Linked DNA regions of Homo sapiens: regions 1, 3 and 4 are each linked to region 2. The links come from fine-mapping of genetic effects on gene expression. A gene starts in region 2. Each other region holds a variant in brackets. All regions are shown on one strand. Distances are from middle to middle.

Region 1 (8,196 bases), 65 kb after region 2:
ATTGTTTTAGCTTTTATATTTAGTACTATGATTCATTTTGAGCTAATTTTTGTACATTGTGTGAAGTAGGGGTCCATCTTTATTCTTTTACAGTAGATACCTAGTTGTCCCAGCACCATTTCTTGCAAAGACAATTCTTTCCACCATTGAATAGTCTTGACACCTTTGTTGAAAATTAACTAGATATTTTCTGGACTCTTAACTCTATTTTATTTATCTGTATGTCTATCTTTATGACATAGAGATATCTTTATGCCAGGACCACACTTTCTTAATTACTGTTGCTTGATAGTAGTTTTGATACATTTTTACTGAATATATTCTGATAAACACTTAATTTCTTATCCACAGTATATATGCTATACAGGCATACTTGTTATATTGTGCTTTGTAGATAGTGTGTGTGTGTGTGTGTGTGTGTGTTTGTGTGTGTTTTAACTAGTTGAAGGTTTGTGGCAATGATGCATTGAGTAAGTCTTTCGGTACAATATTCCCAACAGTGTGTGCTTACCTGTTGTTTCTGTGCCACAGTTTGGTAATTCTTGTAATATTTCAAACATGTTCATGATTATTATATCTGTTACTATGATCTATGATTGGTGATCTTTGATGTTACTATTGTAATTATTTTGGGGCACCACAAACTGCGCCCGTATAAATGGCAAACTTAATTGGTAAATGTTGTGTGTGTTCTGACTGCTGCATTCACTGGCCATTCCTCTATCTCTCTTCTTTGGGCCTTGCTATTCCCTAAGATACAATAATGTTGAAATGAGGCCAAATAATAATCCTATGGTGGCCTCTAAGTATTTAAGTGAAAAGAAGAGTTGCATGTCTCTCACTTTAAATCAAAAACTACAAATGATGAAACCTAATGAGAAAGGCATGTTAAAAGCTGAGACAGGCCGAAAACTAGACCTCTTGTGCCAAATTGCCAAGTTATGAATGCAAAGGAAAAGTTTTTGAAGGAAATTTAAAATGCTACTTCACAGAACGTACAAATGATAAGAAAGTGAAGCAGCTTTATTGTTGATATGGAGAAATTTTTGGTGGTCTGGATAGAAGATCACACAAGCCACAACATTCCATTAAACCAAGCCTAATCCAGAGCAAGGCCCCAACTCTTCAATTTTATGAAGGCTGTAAGAGGTGAGGAAGCTGGAGAAGAAAAGTTGGAAGCTAGCATAAGTTTGTTCTTAAGGCTTAAGGAAAGAAGGCATTTCCATAACATAAAAAATGCAAGGTGAAGCAGCAAGTGCTGATGTAGAAGTTGCAACAAATTATCCAAAAGATCTAAGATGATTAATCAAGGTGGCCACACAAAACAACAGATGTTCAGTGTACACAAAACAGCCTTCTATTGGAAGAAGATGCCATGTAGGACTTCTGTGGCTACAGAGGAGAAGTCGATACCTGGCTTCAAAGCTTCAAGGTACAGGACAGACTGACTCTCTTGTTACGGTTAAATGCAGCTGGTGACTGTAAGTTGAAGCCAGTGCTCATTTGCCATTCCAAAAATCCTAGGCTCTTAAGAATTATGCTAAATCTACTCTGCCTTTGCCCTAGAAATGGAAAAACAAAGCCTAAGTGACAGCCACATCTGTTTACAGCATGGCTTGCTGAATATTTTAAGCCCACTATTGAGAACTACTGCTCAGGAAAAAAAGTTCCTTTCGTAATATTACTGCTCATTGACAATGCATCAAGTCACTCAAGAGCTCTGATGAAGATATACAAGGAGGTTAATGTTGTTTTCATGCCTGCTACACCCCTTATGCATGCCATGGATCAAGGAGTAGTAATTTCAACTTTTAAGTCTTACCATTTAAGAAATACATTTCATGGGCTATAGCTGCTGTAGACAGTGATTCCTCTGATGGATCTGGAGAAAGTACATTGAAAACCTTCTGGAAAAGATTTACCATTTTAGATGCCATTAAGAACATTTGCGATTTATGGGAGGGGACCAAAATAACAATATGAACGGGAGTTTGGAAGAAGTTGATTCTAAACTTCATGGTTAACTTTGAAGGGTTCAAGACTTCAGTGGAGGTGGTAACTAAAGATGTGCTAGAAATAACAAGAGAAATAAGAAGTGGAAGATGTGACCGAATTGCTACAATCTCATGATCAGTGTTGAATGAATGGGAATTTGCTTCTTATGGATGAGCCCAAAAAGTGGTGTTTTGAGATGGAGTTTACCCTTAATGAAGATACTGTGGACGTTATTGAAATGACAACAAAGGATTTAGAAGAGTATATGGACTTAGTTGGTAAAGCAGTGGCAGTGTTTGAGAGGATTGACTCCACATTTTTTAACGAAGTCCTACTGTGGGTAAAGTGCTATCAAATTGCATCGCATGCTACAGAGAAATCGTTCATGAAAGGAAGAGTCAACCTATGCAGCAGACTTTATTGGTTTTTTTGCTTGTTTGTTTGTTTTGGGATGGAGTCTCTCTCTGTCGCCAGGCTGGCGTGCAGTGGCGTGATCTCGGCTCACTGCAACCTCTGTCTCTCGGGTTTAAGCGATTCTCCTGCCTCAGCCTCCCAAGTAGCTGGGACTACAGGTGTGCACCAACACGCCAGCTAATTTTTGTATTTTTAGTAGAGATGGGATTTCACCATGTTGGCCAGGATGGTATCGATCGCTTGACCTCAATATCCACCTGCCTCGGCCTTCCAAAATGCTGGGATTACAGGTGTGAGCCACCGGTTTATTGTTTTAATTTTGACAGCCACCCCAGCCTTCAGCAGCCACCACCCTGGCCAATCAGAAGCTGTCAACTTGGAGGTAAGACCCCCTACCAGCAAAAATATTACATCTCCCTGAAGGTTCAAATGATCATTAGCATTTTTTATCAATAAATAATTTTTAATTTAAGGTAGGTATGTACATTGTGTTTTAGACATAATGCTGTTGTACACTTCATAGAGTATAGCATAAACATAACATTTATATGCAGTGAGAAACCGAAAAATTTTTGCTACCGGCTTTATTGCAATACTCGCTTCATTGTTTAGAACCAAACCTGCAATATCTTCGAGGTATTTCTGTAAGTTATTTATGGTTTTTGTGTATCAGGTTTGATTCTGACTCTCTTCCCTTCTATCAACATGTTAATTCTCAAATTGCAAGGGTTTTTTTCTGTAGTATTGAACGTTACATTTTATTAAGGTAGAGAGATTTGGTTATGAGGTGATATTTCTAAAACCGAGTGGAAACCACATTTGTTGAATAATGCTCCCTCCAAAAGTTTCATCTCTTTCTGCATATGTGTAGTAACCTCTCAGAGCACTGTACCAGACACTGCTGGTATCTATAGCAATTACACCTCTGTAAAACAATCAAAAAAGAATTGTTAAGAAAGAGAAAGCAAGAGAGAGGATATATTCTATTTGTTATCCTAACCTTTAGTCACTTTACTTTCTCTTGAATACGAGTACTTTTTAGAATTACAATGAATTTTTAAATCTCTTTAGCTGGGATTTCATAGTGAACCTCAAGCGTTACCCTTTTGGGGTTTAAAAAAGAAATTAAAAAGGGTTTCCAGAATATACTCTTCCTCACATTGATTTAAGATTCTTTGAGGCTTGATTATTTAAAAGTCTAATGCATTCGGTGTTTAATTTTAAATCGAATGAATTAAATTAGCACTTAAATACTATTTAATATTTTAATTAAGTTAAAATATAGATGATGCTTACTTTATAAAATAAGTTTGCTGTTTTGTGATAAAATTAAGATTACAAGAAATTATACATCTGCACATGTTTTTGTCATAATTCGAATCCATGGATCTCTCTTTACAGTGTTAAGTGACGAATTTGTCAGGTTGCATAAGAAAGAAGTGGGAGAAAGAATCACAGTAAATTTAATCCTTCCATTGCAGTCTTACTTTTTCCCTACTCTTGCACCCTAAAGATCCTAGAGGCATTTTGGGAAACTACTGATACGGATATCATTTCATTACGTAAACTATTTTATTGCATAGCTTGAATATAGACCTACTAGACATCAAACAAGCAAAATAAGTGTTGTCTCTTTGGGATTTAGCTTGAGGTTTCAGGGAAGCAGCATATCACTTTTCAGTAATTTTTTA[C/G]CATTATTCATTTTTACTTGGAATAAATAAATCATTTATCTCATCTTCCTGTTGATAGTGAAAGATAACAGGATAATCATAGCAGTGATAATCTGATGTCATTTTAGACCTAGCAAGAGTAGATTATCTGTGACCCAGATAAAATAATTAGAAATTACTTTAACTTAAAAATAGTGGATTCTAATCTCATTTTCAAGGTTAAAAGATTTCAACACAACCAGATGTTTCTGTTAAATAGACTAATCTGAAGCCCAATTCAAAAGGATTACCTGTGATTATTTTTCGATTTAATTTTAAACAGGATTTAAATATACGTTTTTGTGCGTTTTTACTACAATTTATATTGGAATAAAAATGTTTTCAAATCAGTCTACTTCGAGGCATTTTTTATTAAGGGAAACAGGTTAGTCAAATTATTTTTTAGACTTCAGACTGTTTAGCCTGTTTTTTGGTTTTTTTTTGCTGTTTCTGAATCAAATGGATAGTGATGTTATTTAATGTAATTGATGTTGTCTGAATTATTGAGCAGTAGTTCACACATAGCCAACAATAATGTCCATTCTGATGAGCACCAATACTAATAGTGCTGGGTGATTGTATTTGTCATGTTCTCAGTCACTGGGCTTGGAGAGAGTTAATCAAGAAGTGCTGTAACAGCTGGTACAGCGCATTCTGGTGAGGTTCTGACAGTGAGCTATTGTGTACCATGACACTGCTCTGACAGTTTATCTAATTTTTATATACAAGCATTTTTGTTTTCTGGGCTCTGTGGAGTTTATATAATAGTGTAAGCTTTTGATGATGTCTCTGGAGATTTTCTCAGTTGTGGTGAGGTTGGGGGTAGGGTGAGACAGATGTATTTAGTTGCAATTTTGTAAAAGACTAAATTCTCAAACAAAAAAATAGTGATTTTTGCATTTGGTTTCACAGGTGCTATTGTTGGATTCTATTTGAATTGCTGAAGATAGCTTAAATCAAAGCTTTTCAAATTAAGAAGAAAATGTTTTCCCCCCTAAATACTGGCTCATATTTAACTCAGCAAGTTAATGTTTACTTAAATAAATACAGGAGAAATCATAAATGCAGGGGTGACAGTTTTAACTTGGCTACCTTACTCACTGAAAAGTATCTTGTGTTCCAAGTGTGAAATCAGTTTAAAGGAGACTGTCTAGTAAACAGCATTTTACGAATCAGTCGATTTACTTGCCTTTTAATCTATACACAGAAGTGTAGTCCTCAAATGATTAATTCCTATAGTTAAATTTTGCCTAGTATTCTGCCAAATTATTTTGAATTAATAGCATTCAGTACACTCTTTATAACAATTATGTTTGATGTACTCAGCTCCAGGTCAGCATTGCAGACATGAACATCATTGCTAATTATGCTGACCCCAGCTCACATATACTTCTATAAAGGGAGCTCTGTAAGGCATTTTTGTCTTCCTCTGAATTTTTGCTTGATAAAAATAAAATAAATGTATTTCTAATGTAGTATTCCCAATTGTAATATTATATGAAAGATTTTATAGCTTTTTTAAAACCTAGAAAGTTAATTAAAATTTAAAGTGTCCCTTCTTTTTAAATATGCTTTTAATGTCATATAGTAAAATTGGGTATAATATTTTTTAGAATTTTGTATATGATAAGTTTATAAAAAACTAGGTTCCCCCTTGCCAAGGGCATTTGCTTAAATACCAAGTTATATTTCATATTTACATGAAATACTCTTTTAAAAAAATTATCAAAATTATTTTGATAATTATGGTGTGTGGAATTGGGCTACTCTTTAGCATATGCATGTTCCTATGTAAAAGCATATTTATATTGCATAATTTCTGTTTGCTCAGTGTAATAAACTGCTTGTAAGTATTTTTGATAAAACTAATTAAAAAGAAATCTTTTTCTATAATTTATTTATATGTCCTTAAATCACTACTGATTGCTTGAGTGATTAAATAGATGCTTAAAAAGTGTTCGTAAGGAAACTAAACATTTATGGGTTTTCCTTTTACTAACAATTTTTCCTAGATATTCATTTTATTATTTCATGATCTGAATCCACACAAATATTTAATCTGACATTAAAACATAGGACTGCAGAAAGCAGTAAATCTTATATTTATGGTTTGCTTATGGTATTTTGGCACAATAATTTATGTACATTTTATTGATATATTATTATTCCCTGAATCTCAGCCAAAGGGGCATGTTAAATGCCCATCTTATTTCTACTAATAACCAAAAATCTTATCAAAGTATAATTTTGGTGTTAAAAGTGTAAGAGTAGTTAAATTTGAGTTTTGATTATAAACAGTTTTTCAGCTGTTCCAAATATTCTGATTAGTGCGAGACTTATTTCTACAAAACATTATTGTATATAATCATCCTTGCTGGCTTCCTCTCTATGTTACTATATAATTATTTCCTGTATACTTGACTACTTTTACTAGATTGTAAGTTCCATGATGCTAAGGACTGTGTCATAATAGATACTTGGTAAATTTTTGATAGATGGATAAATGAATGAATGAATCATGGTTTACATATTTAGGACTTGTTTTTTCAACTGGATTATAAGCTCTTAGAGGGCATAGGATTTTATATGTGTAGTCTCTTGTAGTCCCTATTATTTTATTTTTCATTATAAAACCACTTGTTTGTTTGTTTAAACATAATGTTGAAAAGTTACATTTTGAGGTAATTGAGGTATTTCTTTCCAAGCCCTCTCAAAAAGTAGGTAGTAGGCAGTATCACTAAAATCTTAAGACTGCCATTTATTGAGGAGTTATAAGGGGTTTTGACATAATTAACTCATTTAATCCCCACAAAAACCTATGAGGTAAGCGTTATTATTTGGAAATGGAGGTATAGAGTTTTAGCAATTTTCTTTAGATTATACAGTCAGAAAGTGGCATTTAAGATTAAGAGAAGTGTGAGGATTATTTTGGAAAGAGATTTTCAGTGTCTATAAATATAAGATCTGTTGCCTTCTCACTTTTGTTCTATGATTGATTCGATGTTTATGTGAACTTCAGATCCCTGATAAAAGACATAGCTGGTCTTTTGTTGGAAATGGGTGCTTAAAGAACCATTCATTTCAAATGAGGAAAGTAGAAGGAAGACAGAGCTAAGATTAACAGGACATTTCCCTCTTTTGATTGAAAACAAAACTAAAAATAAGGAATCATGCTATTTCTGTTCATGTCCAATTAGTTTAGTGCTGCAAATTTATATTAAGTTGACCATTTTGTACAGTATGTGCTGCTAAGTGCTATGGAAAAATTTAAAGTTAAATGAGCTACTGTTCATATACTAATCAGAGGTGCTAAGAAGTGAAATGAAAGTCTTTCTTAGAATTAATATAAATTAGTAATAGATAAAGCAGGCAAAGTTTTTCTCTAATTGTGAAAAACTTGCCTGAGTAGTGTTTTTAATTTTTAAATTTTTGATTGATATATAATAATTGTACATAGTTATGGGGTACAATGTGATGCTTCAATATTTGTATACATAATGTAATGATCAAATCAGTAATTAACTTATCCATCACCTCAAACGTTTTTCATTTATTTGTGGTGAGAACATCCGAAATCCTCTCTTCAGGCTATTCTGAGATGTACAGTACTTTGTTGACTGTAATCACACTGCTGTGCAATAGAACACCACAATTTATTACTCCTTTCTAATTGTAACTTTGTACCCATCGACCATCCTCTTCCCCATCCTTCACTTCTTTCTACCCTCCCCAGTCTCTGCTAACTACTGTTCTATTCATACTTCTGTGAGATCACCTTTTTTAAGATTCTGCATATGAGTGAGAACAGTCAGTATTTGTCTTTCTTTAACTGGCTTATTTCATTTATGCATGTGATCACAAATGATCGTACTTCATTCTTTTTTTGGCCGATTAGTATTCCATTGTGTATATATACCATATTTACTTTATTCATCTGCTGTTAGACACAGGTTGATTCCATATCTTGGCTATTATGAAGAGTGCTGCAATAAACATGGGACTCTGACATACTGATTTTATTCCTTTGAATATACAGTTGTCCCTCACTCTCCATGGGGGATTGATTTCTGGACCCCAC
Region 2 (8,196 bases):
CTTTCTTGACTTTGAGTCCTGGGGAGTGGAAAACTTTCATCATCAAATGAGTTGTTAAAACCTAGAGGATTACACCTGTAGCCTGACAAACTCATATTTATTGCCTTGCATAGAGAGATGTCACTCCTAGGCAAGAGGGAGGAAGGAGGCATCTTTTGTAAATTGAACTTCCATTGAAGAATTTTGAGGAGCATCTAAGGGAAGCAGGTATCCATTTTGGATTGGTTGTTTTGAGGTGGGATTAGGAAAAGAGAGATTTAGCCAGGATTGGATGCTGTCATGAGGGGATGATGGCTGAGCAATTGGGTATCTCTAGTAATAAATGAAAATAGCCAGCAGTCAGGGGCATCATTGGTGAGAAGTCAGCAATCACCTAAAGAGGGGATCATTATGGCACTTTATAACTGCTGCATGACCTTGGCAGAAAGTGTTTCCTGCTAATTTTGCAGCTGGCTTTATCTGTGTCTGTCCTCCTTGTCTGATTAGTGGCAGGGCTTCTTTTCTCTTTTCAGTCCAAATTGATTCTCACTCTTTTAATCCAAAAGAGATTTTAACTCTTTCAGCATCCTAGACTCAACTCATCAGAACATTCACTAGGATGCGTTTTCCTACTAGCACTTAACCAAGTGTAAGAATCTCAGGTTCATCATGATTTAATTGAATAGAAACTTCTAGAGCCACCATCAAACAATCCAAAGTTGAGGTAAAGCAATGTGGCCTAACAGGTTCCAATGTAGTATACTTAGAACCTTTCCAGATGCCCCACTACTCTGCCTTTTGATAATACCACTGCCCTCACTAATAGTCTTTTCCAGCTTGGAGCAGGTCATCACCTTTTGCCAAAAGCCTAAGGACTCTTCATTGGGAATAGCATTGTTTCTGAGGCTCACCATGCTTGGAATCTGTTCCACATTTCCAGCCCTCTCTCTTTCCATGTATCCTACCTTTGAGCCACACCAGAGGGATTCTTGCACTTTCATTTCTCTATGTTTTTGCTTACACTTTCCTCTGTCCTGAAATTTCTTTCCCTCCTTTCCCCCAATCAAAATCCTATTCTCACTTGCCTGATACAGGAACCATTCTCCAAGAAGCCACCCTTGAACTATCCCATGGAAATTACTAGTTTCTTCATTAGCACTTCCATAAAACTTTCCTTGTAACTCTGTTTAGCACTGCTATTGTTTTTTTCTCCTAAGCACACAGTCGTTTTTGTTTGTTTGTTTTGCAGTTTTCCTTGATATTTGGGGAAAAATGTTTATTTTACCTACTCTCTACATTCTAGGGATATTTCTTAGCCTGAAGTTCCTGGCTTCGCTGTGATCCTTTGGAGGCATAGGAAGGTGGGGCAACTTGTGAAACTTCATATATATAAATTTCATATATATAAATATATATGTTCCTGTATGTGTGTGTGTATATATGTGTGTGTGTGTGTGTGTGTGTGTGTATTTGTGTATATGTGTACTTTGCTGGGGTCCACAACTTTCATCAGATACTCAAAGAGATGTGTAACCCAAAAGAGAAGAGGTTAAGAACAACTTTTAGAATATTAGATTGTTATGGCACAGGCACTCTGCCACTCAAACAGATGGGAGAGACAACTATAGGCAACCAAGAAATCATGAATGTGCATCAAATATGGGTGCTTAAGGCATGGTACCCAGCTGGGCAGGTGGAGAATGCCATCCATCCAAAGCTGCCAAGGGCTATTAGCCAGTACTGATTAAACTCTGGACTGCACTGATTTTTGGAAATTGCACTAAAATCCAGATCCTCCCTAGTCACGGCACAGAAGCACAGGAGTTGGCTGTGTTTACCCTCATAAATGCCCTGAGTGTGCCTTTGTTAGAAGCTTGGTTGGCAGTGGCAGCAATGCTACTTGTCCTTGTCTACTTTTTCTACTTCCAGATAAATATTAGTTTGATTAATAATCACATTTCAGTTTGTCCCAGGCCCCATGAAGTAGATTAGAATTCTGGAGGGAAAAAATATGGTACGATCTATATCGTCTTTCCATAATATACCCAGTAAATAGAAAATCTTTTCAAAAGATTACCTGATGCCACATCTCCCTCACCCCCTTATTGTTACCCAGGTGCCTGAATGTATGGGTTGCAATACAATATAACCAATGATTAGCATGAATGATAGAACCAGATGACTTGACCTTCAGTGTAAGGGATAGGCAGGCCTTTGATTATACTCATGAAATGCCCATGCTAAAAAGGTTCATGTTTTTAAGGATGTTTCTCCTGCCTCTTCTCTCCTATTCCCTTGCTTAAAAATTCTCTGTGGAATTGATTTGGCTGATAAAAGACAGGCTAACTTATTTTAAAAAGGGACTGAAAAATCCATGCACTTCCAATTGTCATGTGCAATCATGGACCTGTCAACTAATTCTTATTTTGGCAGTTTTGAGATCACTTGTCACAAATTATTCCCTCTCACAGGGGTATCTGAAGAGAAAGCAAAATAATATGCAATTCATGTAGCTGGATTCAGGTGGAGGGGATTCTACTTTTAATATGCAATTGGGTAGCTGGATTTGGGTGGGGGGGGGATTTTACATTTAATATGCAATTCTGGTAGCTGGATTCGGGTAGGGAGGAGTCCACATTTAATATGCAATCAGGTAGCTGGATTTGGGTAGAAGGGATTCACATTGAATACGCAATCAGGTAGCTGGATTCCGGTGGGAGGATTCCACATTTCCTCTTCCTTCAAAGTGATTGTTTATATGAAATATCTCCTTCTTTTCAAACAGAGAAAGTTACAAAAATCCTACTACATCAAATGATTTATGAAAAATAAAGGTAATTCTATCAAAAGCAATCGTGACTAGTCTTTCAACCTCGCTATGCATATATCGGGGAGTGTATTTGTTAACCTGAAAGGCAATAAAATCTGCTTATGGGTAAATCAATTCCTACCACTGGGTTCTTTTGGGAATATCTAGTAATCTAGGTCAGTAATTCTAAAACTTGAGTGTGTATTAGGATCACCTAAAAGGCTTGTTACATCACGGATTGCTGGGCTACACCTAAACAGTTTCTACTACAGTAGATCTGGGATGGGGCAAAAGAATATGGATTTCTCACAAGTTGACAGGTGATACCGATGCTGCTGGTCTAGGGATCCCACTTTGATAACCACTGACCAAAGTTTTTAAGGTCACAAGGTGTTTATAATTAGTTCAGAAACCAGGACACAACATGTTTAAAAATCCTTAGCAATACAAGGTAATATGAGGCCCCAAACAGGCAACAATGTGCACTATATAAGGGCAGTGGTGAGAGAACTCTGGTTTGGCAAGATTTCCACTCTCAAATCTGGATAGGGTTAAGATCATCAGAGAGCAGGGCATTCTAGAATGGGGAAATGAACCAAATTAGTTGGAGCTAAGACTGGAGAGGTAGGTAGGGATGTGTCTGTGGAGGGCTTTTAAGCACATCTTATAAGGAATACAGATTTTATACAACAGGTAATATTTCTTCCACCAACACACTGTCTCCTCCTGTGGCACGTGGGCAGAAAGATCTAGCTCCACATTACTGCAAACGGTTTAACCTTCCCCAAATACTGTTCAGCCGGAGTGAGGTGGGAAAGTTAGTAGATCTCTGGTGTTTGGTGAAGATACCAAGTTAGACTGAGAGGTGGATTACTTGCATCGCTGAGTCCAAAAGTTGTCGGCTTTTGCAGGGATGGGAAAGCAGGAAACTTTTGGAGGTCTCCCAAAATATAAGAAAAGATTGTTTGGGTGTGGATTTAGGTTGAGGACAGGAACAGGAAATATCCTGGGATGTCTGAGGCAACCCAATAGAGGGTCTGAAGTGGACGAGACCATGCACTACAGTGCAATGCTTTTCCATCTTTACGGTGCACCCCAGGAGTCACCTGGTGATCTTGCTGAAGTGCATGTACTGATTCAGCAGGCCTGAAATTGTGCATTTCAAAGATTGTGAGTTCCCAGAGGATGCTGATGCTGCAGACCGCGCTTTGAAGCAAGGTACCATGGGACATCCCAGAACACCTGCGGGGAGAGAGGCCTGCTGGCCACATCCCCCGAAGAAAGGATACATGCAATCTTTTAAGCTAAGGCCCCCATCCTGTCTCTCGGGAGAGGTGAGCAGTGAGGATATGGGGACAATGAGAAGGACGGCTCAAGTAGGGCTGGGGAGGGGCAGAGGCGCCCAGGCGCGCCAGGTGCAAGCGCTCTGGAGAGTGCGGTCTGCCTGGGTCCGCGGCTCTGGGGCTGCGGCGCGATTGCAGGAGTTTCGGCCCTCAGCGGCTCCCATCGCGGCTCCCGGGAGCTAAGCGAGACGGCGACGGCGGCAGTCGTCCCTCCCCACGCGGGCGCGCGGGCATGCGGACACCCACTCGGCCGGTCCAGGCCCTCAGGCTCCCGGAAGCGGAAGGGGAGAGCGGCCCGGCCTGGGCGGCGGCGCCGGAGGAGGCGGAGGTGGCGCGGCAGGAGGAGGGGAAAGAGCTGCTGGCGGTCGGGAGAGCGGCGGCAGCGAGAGGCGAGCCAGCGGCGACGGTGAGTGTGCAGGCGCGGGGGCGAAGCGGCCGCCCCCACCCCCATCCCCATCCGCACCCCCACCCCCATCCCCGGCCCCCGCTCCGCTCTGCCGGGCCCGCCCGCCGCTCCTCCGCGCCGGGACGCCCTCACCTGTTCCTGCACGCCCCCTGCACCTGCTCTGTTTGGAACCCGGGGGTTTCTCGGTGCCTCCCCGCCCCAGGCCTGGCCTTTTTCAGAGCGTCTTCTGCTAGAGCTACAGCCCCTTGCTAAGTGCTCCTCCCTCAACTGGGGGTGGGGGGTTCCTGCTCTAGTCGAGACGATGTTGGCTAGTTATTTATTTATTTATTTTAAATCTGTATCCTGAGTTTCTCGCTTGTAAACTACAGTTTCTCTCCCCGCACCCCCGTCTGGAGACCTGCACTGGGATCCCGGGTTTCTCTGTGCTATTCCAGAGCTTTTCATTCATTCCAGACTTCTGGTGTGAAGCTGCAGAGAGGACAAACAGTTTGCTCCTTTATTGACCTTCTCACTCCTCTCCTCTTGATCCAAAGAGGTTTTCGGAAAATGGCTTATGGATGGCAGCAGTTTGCACTTGTTACTGTTCACTGTAACAGGTCGCTGGATTGTAACTGCAGAGTCCATTTAAGTTACGGTCTTTTTCAAGCTATATGTGGGTCACATTTTAAGATCCCTTGAGAGTCAGGGTGGATGTCTGTATCACCAGGGCTGAGAGGACATGACCAATTATTACTTTAAAATATTGCAATATAGCAGTCTCTAAAAGTAGAAGAGAAAAAAAAATCAAGGTCATTGTGGGCGGGTCATAAATTATATTGTAAAGTTACAGTCCAAAGGCGACTAAGGATAATTAAGTGCAATTTAAAAAGATGTGTTAAATAGGTCCTCAGCCTACTATGCTAATATATGCACTTTTAAAAATTCACTGCTTTCCTTGTGGTAAGAATAATATTAATAACAGTCACCATTTGATGACTGCTTAGTATGCGCCATTCCTGGATTAAAAGGCTTTTGGTGTAATATTAAATTCTTCCAACTCTTTAGATTTTACTTATTTTAAAGGTAAAATTCGGAGAGATGCTCTGTTTTTCCTTAGTTTGTGCCATCTCTTAAAAGCAAAAAGATATTTGAAGAATTGAGGTGAGAAATCCACTGGAAAGAAAGAGCCAAATGAGATTTGGTGTCGTGGAAAGAAAAACTAGATTCTAGTCCCATTTCTGTCACTATCCAGCTGTGGGTTTACAGGTAGGGCAATGACCCATGTTATTTTCTCTATACCATCAGAGAGCCAGACTAAATTATTTAAGGCTTATTTTAGCTTTTCCATGCTTACTTGGAAAATGTTTTTAAATAAGACCCTTTAACGTGGTTTGAAGGTACATTAAAAACATATACGAAGTATTAGTAAAATATGAAAATATAAGTTAAAATGTATAATTCCATAATTGTTTTGGTGTAGTACTCTTCCAGAATTCATCATTTTCGATGGAAACAATTCTATTAGATCCTTTGACACTACTGAGATTTCTGTTAACATACTTGAGAAGCTGTAGTTGGAATAAATGAAATAGAGCGTCATTTAAAGAAAATGATGAGGACCGTGTCACTTTTGCCTACGAGGTACTTTGTTTAATAAGAGAAATCTAAGCATTTAAAAATGCAGACATATAATCAGCTTAACAGGAAGTTCTGAGACAAGAATCAATGAATCATAACATGTACTTCTTATTTGCCTACTGCCTCATTTCTTTAATTCGTAATGACCGATTCAGAACCTGTGGAAAAATGCATGAATAAAATAATGGTTTTATAAAATGTGACCCACATATAGCTTGAAAAAGACCGTAACTCAAATGGTCTCTGCAGTTACAATCCAGGGACCTGTTATAGTGAATAGTAACAAGTGCAAACTGCTGCCATCCATAAGCCATTTTCCCGAAAACCTCTTTGGGTTGAGAGGAGAGGAGTGAGAAGGTCAATAAAGGAGCAGTTTATTGTTTGTCCTCCTGCTAGTCTTATTATATAGTGGTTTAGTAAAGAAACTGCTTGAGAAGTTGAGTAATGTCTCAACATGGAGCTGTTTTTCTGGAATTGTAATTGAATGTGACTCAGTGAAAACTTTTTTAGCATAGGAGGTGACACAGTGGCAGTATCAATACTACCAGGCAAAAGAGGGAAGGCAGAGGAAAGGCTGTTTTTATTGCCAAGAGTTTGTTCCCTAAATTCAGTTTTACTTTTATATTAAGGAATGTAACCTTTTATGTTGTTTTAGTAAAACATTAGGGCTCAGATTCAACTTTTCACATGCATTAAATATAATAGGCAATTTAGCATCTAGTAGAATAATCAGTGCTTAAATAACTCTTATTAAAGGTAAAAATACAGGTGAAATTGTAAAACAGTTTTTATTGTTGAAAGTGATTTGTTAAGAATTCTTGATAAGTCAAGTCAGACTAGTTTAAAAAGCACATTTTCATAGACATGTGAATCATCACTGTGCTCATTGATAGGTCCCTGAACAAAAATACCTTAGTATGATGGTACTTTATGTGTTTGTTTTGCTCTTTAGACCTAACCTAGGCAAAATTGTGACATTTTTGAAGTTTGCCTTCTGCCTTTCAAGCTGCTTTTTCCTCTGTGCTATTTCTCTCAGGGTAGATTAACCTTCTTCCCCATTTCAGAGACTCTCTTAACCGATGTGTTGCCCCTTCTACAAAAGGGCAGGTTGGGTAAAATTGATATTTTACCATTCACTGGTGAATTTTATTTTAAATCTAACCTAAAATGCTCAAGTGTGATGTCAACCAAGCTTCTGATTTTAAGCTTTTTATCTGTAATTACAGAATGAAGAACTTTTTCACTTACTGCAGGATTTTCAGCTTCAGCAAGCAGGTGAGGAGAGATTTTTCTTATGGTGTTAGTGTTCTTAAATCATGGCTGCTTTGGTAAAGCCTGGTGTGAAGGAAATCTAATTTAGTCTTCTACCCCCAACCCCCCACCAATCTCTCTTGGTGTGGTGGGTACTAGAAGGTAAGTAGCAGGCTTCCCTTCCTTCTTGGAAGAACATACTTGATTCATACCCAGGAAAAGCCTGGGCCTCTTCATTTCTGGCTTTTACTGTATCTGAAGGTTTTTTCCTTGTGCTGATTTTGGAACAAAAGTTACCTTTTTAAATCCCTGTCCCTATCCTACATTTAATCTTGCCTTTTCAGTCCCTTTTCCCACTCCTATCTCCCTAATGAAAATTCCCACAGAGACCTTTTGTACTGACTGAAACAATATTTGGTGGTCTTTAATTCGTATCACCCCACACCTCCCAAGCTATTTTTACTTTTTGTTAGAAGATTCTAATGAAGTGAGCTTGAGCCAGGGAGAATGGAGACTGAGGCTGCAGTGGGCTGTGATTGCAGCACTCCAGCCTGGACAACATAGTGAGACCCTGTCTCAGACAAACATACCCAAAAAACAGTGGCCCAGTTATCTACTTTCTCTAAAGTTAAAGCAAGTTAATGCAAGCAGGGAAAAATAAAGGTAAATGCCTGTATTAGCAGTACTAATACTACTAGTAGTAATACTACTAGGATAGTGTTAGCAGTATTAATACTGCAGTGTAGTACTACTAATACAGTCATGTACATTTATTTTTCACTCATGAGACT
Region 3 (8,196 bases), 510 kb after region 2:
AGAGCCCAGAGTCCTGACTCTCCAGGCAGTTTGGAGAGAACATGTCCTGCTCCCTGAGAAGAAAGATTGCCAATGAAATATTAGAAAGTCTTATGTCTGATTTTAACCTAGATATATTAAGTGTTGGGAAAATACATGAAGTGACATAGCACAGAGGGGCCATGTGTACACAGGAGTGTTGTATGTGTGGGATTTAGAATAATGCGTGAAGACTCCAGGATAAACCAGATATGTAAGTCATGGTGCTAGGTAGTAACATAAATGCTGTTCAGGACTTTGGAGGTAAAACAGCACTTATTTTTCTATGCTTTCCTTTTAAGAGAAAAATTTAAGACTAATAGGATCATAAACATTGCATTTGTTTTATGTTGAAATTCTGCATTGATTTTTCGATTTGCCTTCATGATTATGTTCTTGAGTCTGATGACATTCTGGTTTTCATTTTCAGATTCTTATTTCACCAGCATTTTCTTTGCACTACATACCTTGTTGTAAAATGCAGGTTTCTTGGTTTCCAAGGGGAAAAAATGTATATTACATAGTATAGCTGAAATCCAAAATGTCTCCCAGATGGAAAAGAAAGAACATTCATCTCATCTTTTCCTACTGGATCTGGCTGGGTTTTGGAAAGGACTTTATTATTTTCATGTGGCAAACTGCGTTGGCAAATTGTTCCTCAAAGTACGCAGTGGCGTGTTCATCTAATATTATAAGATATGGGCAGCATTTATGAAAGATTATAAATCTTACAACCCTCTTCAGAAACTTAAAATACAGCTGGAAATGTTTTGCTTCCAACAAATATGCAATCTTCATAAAATTCGAAAAGAAATGTTTTGAATAAATAATGTTTTAGTTTATTTCTCTCTAGTGCGAGAGCTATTTCTTTTAGTCAAAATCGTGCCATAAAACTCTTCCCTCCTCTACATTAGCACCCTTGCCTCTGTATTTATATTATGCTGGTGCATTTAATGTATATTTTTAAGTATGCCAGATTGCTTTGCCTTGTTTTTAAAGATAGAAAACTGGATTTGCTCCCAGGGACTCTTTCCCTAACTCGACCAGTTTAAAAACTAAGCAAGGATTGAGTCAGTTAATTAATTTAAATAAGATTACAAATCAAAAACATATTATGCAATCTTGATTTAATTACCACATTTTATTTACTTAATTGAAAACACACTGTAGAAAGTCAGCAATCTTGACAATGACCAGTACGGTGTTTTTGCATTCTGTAGGTTAAAGCCTTCAAAAGCAAGAACTGTAGGTGATCCTGATTATGACCTTTGGTTCACTCAATCCCTAGATCAGTAGGAAGTCATTGAACTTAATCTTAGGTTAGGGCAGAAAGGTCAGATATGATTATCCTAGCTTCCCATTGTTGTGGGGGGTGGGTTGGTACTACTTAATGAAGTACCACAGCCCTCTGGTCAGAGATGTTGGCAGGTTTAACACTTTTTGTGCAGGGTTTCATATTTGCAGGGGATTCATTAGTAGTCCCCTGTGGTAGAATGATTTGCTTTGATTTTTTTTGATATATGATTTTTGATAATATGATTTTTTTTCCACCTTAAATTTCAGTGGCCTATTTTTTCAGTTAATTCCCTGTGGACAAATTTCAGTCTTGAGCGCTAACAAATCCTTATTTTAATCCTTGGGATATGACTCTTTGTACCTAATCTCCTTGTTAAGCAAAAAAGTGGCTCTTTAAAAGAAAGCTTAATGATAAAACAACTGGGATGTTCAGGAATGAAACAGGATATATCGTATATCTACTCTCTTGTTCTGTAGTTTTCTTTGGTTAATGAAATTACTTTATCATGAAGATCTTAAGTGTAGCAACATCTTTTTAAACTATGCGTTTTGCTAAATCAAACGTATATTTTAAAATCAATGTTAAACAACAGAAAGAGGGATCTGAAGATATAGGTCTTCATACTTGAAATAGTAAATAGTTTAAAATATGCAGGAAACTGCATCTCCCAAATATTATATTGGTTCTGCCAAAATATTCAGAGAGGTCTAATTTCTCTTATTGCTCAGAACTGGGTTTAGGAGGAGTACGGATTCACTAAAAAAACAAACAAACAAACAACAAACAAGATCAGGGATTCCATTAACAAAGTGATAAAGTTAAAACTTTTCATGAACAGCTTGTTAAGTTAAGTTTTGCAGTGAAGTGGACTCCAAATAATTTAATGCCCTATTGAAAAGAGACAGAGAGACAGAAGCAGAGAGAGACAGGAGATAAAGGGAGACACAGGCACACACACACACACACACACACACACACACACACACACACACACATACACACACACACACACACACAGGAGCGAAGAATGAAGGAGGGAGAGAGAGAGAGAAACCATTTCCCAAACATTTACATGCTTATGAGAGGCAAGGAAAACACTCAGTTTTCCCATGTTCTTTCGTTGTCTTATTTTAATACACATCTAATAGAGAGAAAATAAAATAATGTAGAACTATAATTTTGTGTCACCCAAAGCAATGAAGCAACCTTCCATTAAAACTGAAGCTGCCTGGTGTTTTAACTGTGCTGGAAAAAAAAAAGCCAAATTATGTAATAGGAAACTTGATTATGGAAAGCTAGTGTTCTGTAAATCCCAAGGAATCAGTCATGGGAGACAGTAAACTGCAAAGAGTGAGGTAGAAAACTTTGGGCAGAGAGAGGGGAAGAGAGAAGAAGGTTTGGCCCAAGGAGAATAGTTTGCTCTCCATTACCCTTAATAATATAGATGTTTTTGTTTTACCTTTTTATTTCCCTACTATAAAATACATGCATTTGTATTCCTTCCGTCAAGCTTTTGTTTCTTACCTGTTACGTCTTGTTTCTGGCATGCTATATATTTAATTGTAAAAATATACTGTTTTATTATATTATCAATTAATAATGTTTTAGAGAGAAAGAAAGAGACTGTTCTGAGCCTTAAAAAAAATCTCATGGTATTCTTTCATTGACAATGGGCTATTTCTTCACCTGCTTAAGGCAAAGAACTATGACAAAAGGGCCCTTTATCACAGGATGACTAAGTTTAGTTCTAGCAAGAGGCTATCTGTAGGTTAACAGGTTACATTGTGGGTTTCATTTACTCCTCTGATATCCCTTGATATAAAAGCTATATTGTTATGGAATCATAGAATTTTAGAGCCACAGGGGACCTGAAAACTCACCTTGTACAGCTCCTTCTTTGCACCAAACTCATTATAAATTAAAATTATGCTTTTCCAGTTGTCTTTTTCTGTTGATCCTCAAGCCATGGTGTCAGAGAATAAAAAGAGTTCCTAAAAGAAGTTTCATCTAGGAGTAGAAAGTTTATCTATAAAGGTCATTAAAACTTTCTTGCCTCAGTGCTTGCAAAGTAGGGACATGGACCTTCAACAAACATTTCTTCTCTTTATAGGAGATGGACAAAAAATAATTTCTAACTCAAAATAGTATGTCTTATCCACCCTATCTTGTTTCCAAATATTTCTTCAGGAAGTTGGGAAGTAGGATTGAGCCTTACATTAGACTGAGAGACTTAGCCCTGGGAATTGTGTGTCTGTTTCCCTGGCTTGCCACAAGAAATTTATCTGTTTGACTTCTACTGTATGATTTTACACAGAGCGGTATGCTTTGTCTTTCTTTCTTGTGCACTTTTATAGTTTATAGACTGATGGTTTTCTGTTCATTTGACTTAACCAAATGTGCCAGGCCCTATCCCAAAGATTAGGGCTATAAGGCTAAATAGGGCAATAATAGACTTCGTGTCATATTGTTGAGGATGTAAAGGGGATGACCTCACCCTGGGGGACTTCAGGGAGAAAAAAGGGGGAACATTATGCACAGACTTGGAGACATCAAATGCAGGAGACACACAAGGAGTCCAAAGGCTAAAGTATGACCCAGGTGCTGATGGGGACCAGATCAAGGTGCCATGAATGGCATACTATTTTCAGAATATATGTAAAGGTTTTAGCAGATGTTTAGCTTAATCAGTTTTGGGTCTTATAAAGATC[T/A]TCTTGGTAAAAGAGTGAAATATGTCTTAGAAAGGTGGGAAATCAGGTCGTTTTTTCACGGCATTGTTCCTAAGGTCACCTTCTTTTGATATCTTTTATGATATGCCCTTGCCCACCTTTCCTAGGAAGAATCATCTGTCCCCTCTTGATTTATGTATTTTTTTATTTGTATATTTCTGTCTCTTCAGGCAGCCTCTGAGCTTCTACATGGCATAGAGTATACTTTTTTTAAAACAATATTTAAAGGTCATTATTGTAAATTAAATATAAATTTAATAAGCATTACAGAGCACCTACTGTGTTCCAAACATTACCAGGTGTTTGGAATACATGAGCCGATCTTGGCTCACTGCAACCTCCACCTCCCAGGTCCAAGTGATTCTCATGTCTCAGCCTCTCAAGTAGCTGGGATTACAGGTGTGTGCCACCGCACCTGGCTACTTTTTTGTATTTTTTGGTAGAGACGGGGTTTCACCACGTTGGCCAGGCTGGTCTCAAACTCCTGGCCTCAAGTAATCTGCCTGCCTCAGCCTCCAAAAGTGCTGGGATTTACAGGCGTGAGCATAAATCTTAATTGATTTACATTTAAATGATGTTTACATTAATGACCTACAAAAAAAATTTGACAGTTTTGATGATTTATCTACCTCAGATAGTTGCAGTGTATCTACTCCAGAAAGTTAGTGCTCAGTAAGAAATACTTTACAGGCTATTACTTATTTATTGTCATATATATTTAACACACATCTTACAGAGCTTCCACCAGATTGTCCATAAAACATTAGAATTTCCTTTGCTTAATGGAGACAAATTTGATTTATAGAATTGGCCTCTCTTTAAAACGTCAATTAGTATATAGAGTTCAGTGATACTAATAATTGCTTCCAACTTAGATATAGAAAATAGCTAAAGGTTTAAAAAAAGATTCTGAAAAAGATTTTGAATGTATTGGTGAATGGTGGGAAGGGTGAGGGAGGTTAGGGGAAGGTAAGTTTCCCAGAAACATTTAAACTACTGAAAAATCATTTAGCTTCGCATTATTTTAGGATTGCATCATAACGATTCAAGAAGTATTGTGTCTGAATAGGCTGTCCATATAGAGAACATAAGTTTTAATAGTTGCTATGCAACTTTGGACAAGCCGTTTGATCACTTATGTGTCCTAGGATCTTCCATAAAATTGGGTCATAGGAAAAACTGCTCACTCCTTAGGTAAGCTTAGATATTAGAAGAGCCACGAGAGATTGACCGCTTTTAAAAAAGGAGTGGACGAAAGGATTGAAAAGTTGGTAAGGGTCGTGCATGAATGTGAACCTTTTCTTGTTCCTGGAGAATCTTTAACCTGGAGAAGAAGGAACTGATTGAGTTTAAAATATAGTAATTTAGAAATAACTTCATTACTTTTTTTTTAGAAGAATAAACATATGTTTAACCCACACTTAAAGAATGGGGAACATGAAACCCACACTTAAAGAATGGGGAAAATAGAGATTGAGATCGAGGAAGATAAAATGAGAGGTGGAAGAGAATGAGGGAGGACTGGTTTTGGTTGGCTGCCTCCAAAAACTCCTCTCTTTTTCTCTACTGCATCAAAATCTTTCCAGACACTAAACTGGGTGTGGTGGCTCACACCTGTAATCCCAGCACTTTGGGAGGCCGAGGTAGGCGGATCGCTTCAGGCCAGGAGTTCAAGACCAGCCTGACCAACATGGTGAAACCCCGTCTCTACCAAAAAATACAAAAACTAGCTGGGTGTGGTGGTGTGCGCCTGTAGTCCTAGCTACTCGGGAGGCTGAAGCACAAGAATGGCTTGAACCCAGGAGGTGGAGGCTTCAGTGAGCTGTGATAGTGCTACTGCACTCTAGCCTGGGTGACAGAGCAAGACTCTGTCTCAAAAAAAAAAAAAAAATTTTTTTTCCCAGACACCAGACCCAGTATGCTGGGCAGCTCACAACTCTTAGCAGCCTTGTTCCTCAAAGACTTCAGCCTTCTGGAAGGTAATTTTCATCAACTGGCTGGTATCTACTGCCTTTTGAGCATGACAGCTGCTAAGAGCCTTGAAGAGCAGTGGACTCCTCCCTTTTGGGGAATGAGGGGTGAAAGCATTTACACAGGATTTCTCAGGTAGGCACACACTTCTCCATGCTTAGTCATCCCACCAGTCATTTTCAGATGCGTGTGTTGGGATGGACAGAACTTAGTTATGTCCCTTTTCTCCCTTTCTTCCTAAAAGTTAGTTGTTATTAAGCATAGAGCCACATTAAAAATGATTAATTTTTTCATTTTAATATGTTTAAACCATTAAATATATTAATCATTTTAAATGTGGCTCTATGCTTAATATTAATATCTTTTATTTACTGATAATGTAGACTGTGTCTGACCCAATGCTTTTGGTGCTTAATGTGATAGAATCTTGCAATGATTTTACAAGGTAGATAATATTATTGCAGTTTTCAAGATCCAGACACCAAGACTCTTAAGAGTAAGTAATTTTGTACAAGATCATGTCACTAGTGAGGGACAGAGCCAGGCTTCACTGTAACATATTAAATACACACACACACACACACACACACACACACACACACACACACACACACACAGAGAGAGAGAGAGAGAGAGAGAGAGGTGGGGGGTGTTGAGCAAAGTGATGGAAGTGGTTAAATAAAACCTTTGGGTATAGAGTAATTTGACCTAGGTGGTGAATTGGAAGGGGTTTAGATGTGGTCTGAATAATTCCTTCTCTGAAGTCAACCACAATAACAGTTCATTTTTGGTTTCTCTGCCAACCACGACTCCCTGGTTACTTCCTTTTCCAGCAGTTGGAATTAAGTGACCGATATAAGGTGACATAAGAGTTAAGAGTAGATTATAGTGTTAGAATTTACAGTCTGAAAAGTAAATGCTCTATCATTTGCTCACTGAGAGGGCCCTCTCCTATGTTTCTGAGACACAGTATACACTGCTTTATTTCATGAGAAGGTATGGGCTTTGGCATATGAAGGAGTCTGTCATTGTGTGCCAGTAAACACCAGATCATTTTAGAAAGTGGAATTGTTACAAAAAGCCAATGTGTGCCTCAAATTTAGGGTCTACTTCAGCTTTCCCTCAAATGCTTGTGGTTTTTTTAGTAAGTATATTTTTTCAATCGAAGAAGTTGGTCTGCAGTTGTTGGAAATGAGAAGAAAAAGTAATTTATAGCAGAAAAGAATAGAGTTTCCCAAGTGGGATGTTGTGGTAACAGGGGATGCCATTGTTCTAGCTGGATAGTTTCTTACGAATGGAAGAGACTTTTCATTCTTTTCTCTGCTGGACCCAAATTTTAGCAACAGATGATGGAAAAGAGTTTTGCGGCACCATTTTGAAGTTGCTGTAACTAAACATGCTAAGGCTCATGCAGAGTCTACAACTCCTGAAATAAGGCGACTGCTGCAACAATTGACAACTTTAACTATCTCAGGTGTCATCACAAGCTTGGCATTAGCCACCTTGAGGGGTGCATGTCTAGACCTTCATAAGAGTGAGATAGCTTTGGAGGGAAAGTAAAACATAGGGAGGCTCTGGTCAGTGGGTGTATTATACATAAGTAGGAATTCCTAAAAAATGTTAGAATCGCTTGAGAAATTAAACTGGAATGTAATATCAATGCTGAGAGACATTTGTCAGAGGAACTCAAGGTAAAAATAGCTGATGCTATAGCAAAAAGTTATGATTTATCATTTTTATGTAGCTATCATACTCCAGGCCTGGAAAGTGGCCCATATTGTACCAGTTTTTTAAAGGAATGTAGAACGAAGAAGATTGATCTCCTAATTTATAAGTCACTGAATCTTGCCTTGATTTCAGAAAAAGTAATAAGAGGACTTCATGGGAGATGAGAGAGATTTTCAGAGAGTTCTCAGCTCTCTGACTGTCTTCAGGAGACTCGAGCCAGATGAAGAATGGTCATTTCTAGTTTCTTTACTTTCATTTTGAAAAATCAGGAAACAATTGGAGGAAAATGTGGGAATCACTAAATATGCCTGCCAAGATCTCATGAAATCTGTTCTAGAATAAAACCAAAAAGACAATTAAGGAAATGGGATGAAGGGGTAAAATTCTGATTTCAGCATTAAATCTAAGCTAACAGGCATGAGGCAAAGGGCAGAAATAAATAACCAGGTTTTATAT
Region 4 (8,196 bases), 88 kb after region 2:
GAAAAGTAAGTACTGGGAAGCGGTTAAGTTTGTGGTGACAGATTACATTTTTCAGAATTCTAATTTTCATGTGAAAGCTTGAATTTTTTTATTGGCAACCACATACTGTCAGTAGTTGTCCTTGAAGTGACAGGTTACCTTCACTTATTTTTGAGAAAATGCTTGCCAAATACCCAAGTCTGAAAAACTGGTTTGTCAGTCATTCCTTCAAGTATAAAATGGTGTTCCATGAAAGAAAGTGGCTAGTTCAGCTTGCAACTCAAACAGTCACACAAGTGCTTTTCTTTAGTAATAATACAATTAAATTCTGGAATTCACCTGAAGTGCTTTATGTGTACTTCCATTTTGTCAAACAATATTTAAAATGTGCTCAAGAACAAGCTTTAGTAAAATTAATGGTTTTTTGCTGTTTCATCAGTATTAAGTGAAAATGGCTTGTCACCTTTTTTAAGCGATAGTGTGGTTTAATCTAGTTAATTTGGCTTTGTTTGGGGAGGAAACAATTGGGGAAGGTGGAGCAGAGGAACATACATTTGAGACTAGATTCATTGACTCTGATAAGTGAGAAGAAACGTCCACTGCTAAAAATAATTGGAATGTGTATCTGTATATTCCAGCTTTTGAACACTTAAAATATGTATCCTTTACAGATTCACACCTACTTAGCCTTGTTATAAAGAGGCAAAAACTAAAAATACGTGATTGTATTATAAGAGTGCAAAATCATTTGAGAAGTTGCCAGATACTGTAGATGAACAAATGCATACAAATGCTGCTCTAGGCTGACCAATTACCCATATGAGCAGCAATTATATTAGCGTGCAAGAGCAATTGGAAGGAAAATTGGACCCTGTAGACATCCAGCTGAGCAAACAGTACTGAGGAAGGATAGAGGATATGTGTTAGCTTGAAAAAAAAAAATACATCTAAGCTAACTTAAAAAAATATTTGTATCAGTCACAGCACATTCTTTGTATGTCCTCTGGATGACTAGTATTTTCAAATTAGGCCCCTTCTCCAAACAAGAAAGCACCTCTGTTTAAAGATCAAACACAATAAAAATAGCAGTGTGTTTTGCATTTTTTAAGAAAGCCAGACTATTGAGGAAATTAGGAACTTGGAATATACAATTCCAAGCACTCAGATACTACTGTAGACACGTATTTGAGTGTGTCTTTAGTAGTAAGTTTAATTGTAGCATGGTTTGGGTGATATTTATCTTTCTTAGTATTGAAATTTACAACTTTAAAAAATTAGACATGTTCCCTCCTCCCCAAAAGTAGCTACTGGCCATAACTGAATGTTTGAGTACCTAGTACGAGATGGAGATTTTATAGTTCCACATTGAAACTATAGATGCGTAATCCTAGCTGAAGTCAGGACCAACAAGTTAATGAAATTTGTTTTATAACTTGTGTAAGCTTTGTAGCTGTAGAACACATATCCTCATTATGTTAAACAGGTTCATATTTTAATGGTGTCTAGAAGTAACCAGTATGAAGGGTTTTTGGATGGTCTGCACTTGTAACTTGATGTCTGGCTTTTAGCGAGTTTTTCAGTGTTCAAAAGCATTTCAGATATTCTCATCACGGAAAAGTACCCACAATGTGGAAAATACTGATCCAGTCAGTGCACGATACTGTGCTGTGAAGTGCTCTAATTTTTGTCATTGATTTTTCATGTACATTTTTTACGTTTGAAAGTCTCCAATAATTTGGGTAATCGCTGTGGTAGGAACCTTCTAAGAGGGTCTTCAGTGATCCTCACTTTTTGGTATTCAAAGCCCTGTAGAGTCTTCTTTTTCCTCCTCAGAGGTGAACGCTGTTTTAAACATGGTATGTAGCATACTGATAGATGTTTTTATACTTTATGTAAACATGAAAAATTGATCAGTTTTTAAAATTTACATAACCCTTCCACAACAGCCCTGATCTCTTGTCCTTACTTCCCCCCCGCCCCCAGCCCATAGCACTTATCACCGTCTAGAACAAAATGGAAAAAATTGCCGTTACCAAAATCTTCACTCCCACCCTCCTCCCCAAAAGTAGCTACTGGCCATAATTTGGTGTGCATCATTGCACTCCCCTTCCTTCACATTATCATATGTGTTATATATGATATTCCTATCATATAATGATATATGATTATCCCTATTAACATATAATAACTTTTTTTTTGGATACAGGGTCTGCCTCTGTCACCTAGGCTGGAGTGCAGTGGCACAATCTCAGCTCACTGCAGCCTCCACCTCCTGGCTCAAGCCATCCTCCCACACCCAGCTAATTTTTATATTTTTTGTAGAGTCGGGATTTTGCCATGTGGCCCAGGCTGGTCTGCAACTCCTGAGCTCAAGCAGTCTGCCCGCCTTGGCCTCACAAACTGCTTGATGATAGGCATGAGCCACCATGCCCACCCTCTTCTGTACAGTTCATATCAATAAACTATTATTTAACCATTCCTCTGTAGTGGGCATCATGTAGATTTTTTTTTTTTTTTTTTGCTATTAGTAACAGTGCTATGGAGGACAGTCTTGTGCAGAAATATTTGTGCCCATTTGTTAGTATTTCTGTAGGTAAAGTCTAGAAGTGAAATTGACAAGTCAGAGGATGTACTTATTTTTAATTTTGATAGGAAGTACCAAAATGTCTTCCAAAATTCTTTACACACATTCTCACATGAATACTATTAATCTTTAAAATTTGTAGCAAAGTAATAGAGGTGAACGTCTGGTTTTTTTTCTCTTGTGTATTCTTTGTTTATGGTTTTTGACTAGGTTACCTTTGCTTGTCAAATGTTAGTAACTTTTTATTAATATATTTCCTGGGTATTATTTTTTAATCTATTTAATAGGTTTCTAAAATTTAGCCCAGTCACTTGTTTTTCTTTATGGTGATTGTTCCAGTTGCTTTTGCTATATAACAATCCCAAACTTAGTGCCATAAAAAAACCAACCATTTTTTTATGGTCACAGTTTCTGTGGGTCAGGCATTCAGAAAGGGCACAGCAGCTTTTCTGTCTTCCATGGTGTCTGAGGTCTTAGCTGGAGGACCGAAAGATCCTGGAAGATTCTATGGCTGGCAACTGCAATCAACAGAAGCCTCGTTTACTCGCATACCTGATGGTTGATGCTGGCTGTCAGCTGAGAACTCAGCTTGGGTTATCATCCAGAACACCTACATGGACCTCTACATATAACTTTGGGCTTACTTACAGCATGATGGCTGGGTTCTAGAAGACAGTGGCCCAAGACAACCAGAAAGAAACTATGTCACTTTTTGTCACCTAGCTTCAGAAGTCACAAACCTGTAGTCCCAAGCTTATCCAGAGTCAGCGGGAGAGAACATAATTCCATTTCATGGGAAGAGTGTCAGAGTCACACTTCACAGGAAAAGTATATAGGATGGGAGATATTGTTGAGGACATCTTTGGAAATTAAATTTGCCCAATCATCATGTTGTATGGAAGAATTAAACTACCTTGAAATTTAGTACTTTTTATTATGACTTCTGGGTTTTATTACCTTGTTTAGAAAGGTCTTTCCTAAATCAAGATTATGTATTTTCCTTCATTTTTCAAGAAAACTTTGATATTTTTGTTTTTTTAACTATTATGCCCTTGAATCCATTTGAAGTTTATTTTCATAAACCCCAGTGTAGCTTTATTTTTACAAACTTCAATGTTTTGTACATTTTTGGAAACTTGTTTCTGTAATATTGTATAGTGAGAAACTAAATTATTTCAGATGGACAAAATATTAACAACACATAAGATCTGACAGTATAAAACTCCTAAAAGAAAACATAGGGGAAAATCTTCATAACATTGTTGACTTCTTGGAGATAACACCAAAAGCACAAGCAACAAAAGCAAATATAGACAAGTGGGACTGCATCAACTTTAAAAGCTTCTGCATAGCTAAGGAGACTTAATAGAATCAAATGGCAGTCTATCGAATGGGAGAAGGTATTTTCAAACCACATATTTGCTAAGAGGTTAATCAAAATACAAAACGAGCTCCTACAACTTAATAGAAGAAAAAAATCCATATAAAGACTGATTAAATAATGGGCAAAGGACTTTAATAGATATTTCTCCAAAGAAGACACACAAATGACCAACAGGTACGTGAAGGGATGCTCAACATCACTAATAGAGAGATGCAAAATTACAACGAGGTATTATCTCACAACTGTTAGAATGGCCATTTGAAAAAAATAGTGTTGGTGAGGATGTGGGGAAATTGGAACCCTTATGTACTGTTACTAGGGGTGTAAAATGGTGCAGCTGTTTTGAAAAACAGTATGGAAGTTCCTCAGAAGAATTAGAAATGCTATATGATTCAGGATTCCCACTTCTGGATATTAAAAAAAAAAAAAA[T/AT]GAAACCAGGATCTGGAAGAGATATTTGCACTCCCCATTTCATTAATGCAGTATTCATAATAGCCAAGAGATGGAAACAACCTAAATGCCCATTGATGGTTGAATGAATTTAGAAAATTTAGTATATACGTACAATGGAATGTTATTCAGCCATAGAAAAGGAAGGAAATACTGTCAGATGCTGCAGCTTGAACCTTGACAACATTTTGCTAAGTGAAATAAGCCAGCCACAGAAGGACAAATACTGCATGATTTCACCAATATGAAGTATCTAATGTAGTCAAACTTATAGAAACAGTAGAATGGTGGCTGCTGTGGGGAGGGGGAATTGGGGAACTGCTGTTCAAAAGGTATAGAGTTTCTGTCACGCGAGTTTAAAAAGTTCTAGAGCTCTGTTGTATAACATTATGCTTATAGTACTGCACTATACTTAAAATTTAACAGTACCGTACTGTATATTTAAAAATTTACTAAGAGGATTGATCTCATGTGCTTTTTGCCACAATAAAAAGTAATGTGAAGTATGAAAAATAATAACTGGAGAGTTTACTAAATTTGTGTAATTAAAAATACCAAGATTAATTACATGCTAATGTTTTGCTTTTTTCAGTTTTCTCACTTTGTTTTCTAAAAACATGCAATGTTACAGATACATCTAAGTCCTCAACCTGCAGTTTTCCTCCCTAGAGGTAGCCGCCATCCTAAAGTCAGTGTGAATTATTTTCATGAATGTTTTTGTGCTTTTATGATGTATGTAGCATCCATAAATGATACTATTTTCAAATTTTACATTTATGTAAATTTTAATCAGCATCACATTTTTTAAACAAAACATCTTTATTAATGTAGATTTGGGCCATTCATTATAAATCCCACAGAACAATTATTTGAATAAACTGTAGTTTATATATTATTCACTAAGTGGATTATTTCCTTTGTTATTAACTTGTTCAAAGAGAAGTGAAATAGTGGAATGGTAAGGTATGTGCATCTTCAACTGTAAAAGCTTTCCCAAATTGCTCTTTAGTCAAACCAATTTACACTCCAACCAACATATATATTGTTTCATCTTCCCCCACATCCTCACTAACCCTATGTAATGAGTTTTTCCTATTTGTTATTGATACATATTTTTGCTGCTTCCTGCATCATTTGTCAGTCCAATCGATTTGCCAGGAATCTAATGTAATTTTCTGGAAAAAGTCTTTGTAAATATCGAGAGAAAAAGTGAATAAAAACATGACTCTAATAACTCAATAATTCATGAAGGATATATTTTCTTAAGGCAAATCAAGGGATGAGTCAACATCTACGACTATAAATATGAATAAAAAATTATGCTCTTATGAGGTAGCCAGAGATAAACCACATTACTGAATACTTAGAGTTCGACCCCTCTAAAGTTCAGGATCCACTTGATTGTATTTGTTTCTTAATAAAGAGCAGCGATTCCCTTTTTCTAAATATTTCACAGGTAGATAAATTTGTAAAGTCCTTATAAAAATAAGTATTGCCTGTTGAGATCTTATTTTCATATTTTATTTATCTAGCAAATCAAGATTAGCTCAGTAATTTATATATCACATGAGGGTAGATTAACGAGCTTTGGTTGCGTTTATGTAAAAGTGGTTGAATCCAAATCTTTCATGTTACGGTTGTGCTTGTTACTGGGTCTTCATAGAAGTAAAAACCACACTGGGGAAAAATACCACAACAATTTTTTGTTTAGCACATTTTTTCACATCTGATTTGCAGTGTCATTTGTGTCCTTGAAGTATAGCATGCATTTAATTCTTCCAGTGGTTATCTTAAAAATTTCAGGAGGATTTACCTATATATTTCTAATTGTAATATTCATGTAAGAAATGGTACCTCAAATAGGAGGTAACTCCTCCTATTTGACATAAGAATTTATGTTTTTATTTCCTATCATACTTTTAAAAATATAATTTGGAGTTTAATACATTATTTTCTGTCTTCCATTTTTAAAGTTCACTTTATTGAGGGATAGTTTAAACACAACAAAATGTATTCATTTTAAGTACATTTCAGTGAGTTTTTAGAAATATGTATATCCATGTAGCTATCAACATATTCAAAATATGGAATATTCAATCACCCAAAAAGTTTCCTCAGGCCACTTTACTGCTCCCCCTCAACTCCCACCCCTCCAGGAAACGCGGACCTGTTTTCTGTGACTGTAAGTTAGATTTGCCTTTTACAGAATTTCGCATGAATGAAATTCTCCCTTTTTTTTTTTTTTTTTTTTTTTTTTTGAGATGAAGTCTCTCTCTCTGTTTTCCAGGCTGCTGGAATGCAGTGGCATGATCATAACTTCACTGTAACCTCGAACACCTGGGCTCAAGCAGGCCTTCTGCCTCAGCCTCCCGAGTGGCTGGGATTATAAGTGCAATTCACTGTGCCTGGCTTTTGTCCTTTGTTTTTCACTGGCTTTTGCTCAGCATATTTTTGAGATTCATTCATGTTGTGAGTATGTTTCTTTTCGTTTCAGCAATTTAAAAATGTCATCCCATTTTTTCTGACCTATAAATTTTCTACTGACAAATCTGTTTGTCTGATGGGGATTTCCTTATATGTGACTTGATGCTCTTCTCTTGCTGCTTTTAGATTTATTTCCTTTGGCTTTGGCATTTGACAGTTTGACTATATGGTGTGTGCATTGGAAAAGACCTGTTCAGGTTTAATATACTTGGGAATCACTGCACTTTGTCTATCTAGATGCCTGTATCTCTGGCAAGACTTGGGAAGTTTTTAGCTATTATTTCATTAAATAAGTTTTCTGTGCCTTTGGCCATCTCATCTCATGGAACTCCCAAGATGCGAATACTTTGTCACTTTATGAGGTCCCTTGTGTCATTGTAGGCTTTCTTCATTTTTTAAATTTGACTGAATTATTTCAAATGACCTGTCTTCAAGTTGAGAAATTCTTTCTTCTGCTTGATCTAGTCTATTGTTGAAGCTCTCTATTGAATTTTTTTATTTCATTCATTGAATTCTTCAGTTCCGATATTTCTGTTAGGTTCTTTTTATTATTATTATTATACTTTAAGTTCTGGGATGCATGTGTAGAACATGCAGGTTTGTTACATAGATATACACTTGCCATGGTGGTTTGCTGCACCCATCAACCCGTCACCTACATTAGGTATTTCTCCTAATGCTATCCCTCCCCTAGCTCCCCCACCTCCTGACTGGCCCTGGTGTGTGATGTTCCCCTCCGTGTGTCCATATATTTTCATTGTTCAACTCCCACTTATGAGTGAGAACATGTAGTGTTTGGTTTTCTGTTCCTGTGAGCGTTTGCTGAGAATGATGGTTTCCAGCTTCATCCATGTCCCTGCAAAGGACATGAACTCATCCGTTTTAATGGCTGCATAGTATTCCATGATATATATGTGCCACATTTTCTTTATCCAGTCTATCATTGATGCACAACTGGGTTGGTTCATAGTTTTTGCTATTATGAATTGTACTGCAGTAAACATACATGCACATGTGTCTTTATAGTAGAATGATTTATAATCCTTTGGGTATATACCCATTAATGGGATTGCTGGGTTAAATGGTAATTCTGGTTATAGATCCTTGAGGAATTGCCACACTGTCTTGCACAATTGTTGAACTAATTTACACTCCCACCAGCAGTGTAAAAGTGTTCCTGTTTTTCCACATCCTCTCCAGCATCTGTTGTTTCCTGACTTTTTAATGGTTGTCATTCTAACTGGCATGAGATGGTATCTCATTGTTGTTTTGATTTGCATTTCTCTAATGACCAGTGATGATGACCTTTTTTTCATG

Evidence for each region. PIP is the estimated chance that this variant, and not a neighbour inherited with it, causes the effect.
Region 1: its variant is the best candidate, but not a certain one, in a credible set for the expression of ZDHHC21 in esophagus muscle (GTEx, PIP 0.84).
Region 3: its variant is the best candidate, but not a certain one, in a credible set for the expression of ZDHHC21 in ovary (GTEx, PIP 0.57).
Region 4: its variant is the best candidate, but not a certain one, in a credible set for the expression of ZDHHC21 in whole blood (INTERVAL, PIP 0.88).

The regions. Positions count from the first base shown.
Region 1 is chr9:14,624,292-14,632,487 of GRCh38, reverse strand. The region is part of intron 8 of ZDHHC21 (zDHHC palmitoyltransferase 21); the gene reads left to right. Among named protein-coding and RNA genes, the nearest start is that of ZDHHC21, 65 kb to the left of the region's middle. The variant C/G (reference allele first, on the strand shown) is at 4,101.
Region 2 is chr9:14,689,570-14,697,765 of GRCh38, reverse strand. It overlaps ZDHHC21 (zDHHC palmitoyltransferase 21), which reads left to right and starts at 4,334. Exons shown (of 10, transcript NM_178566.6): 1 at 4,334-4,537; 2 at 7,381-7,429. RefSeq lists an enhancer at 3,829-4,329 and silencers at 4,403-4,472, 4,553-4,692.
Region 3 is chr9:14,181,142-14,189,337 of GRCh38, reverse strand. The region is part of intron 2 of NFIB (nuclear factor I B); the gene reads left to right. Among named protein-coding and RNA genes, the nearest start is that of NFIB, 130 kb to the left of the region's middle. The variant T/A (reference allele first, on the strand shown) is at 4,024.
Region 4 is chr9:14,601,386-14,609,581 of GRCh38, reverse strand. It overlaps a transcript of ZDHHC21 not described here. Among named protein-coding and RNA genes, the nearest start is that of ZDHHC21, 88 kb to the left of the region's middle. The variant T/AT (reference allele first, on the strand shown) is at 4,378.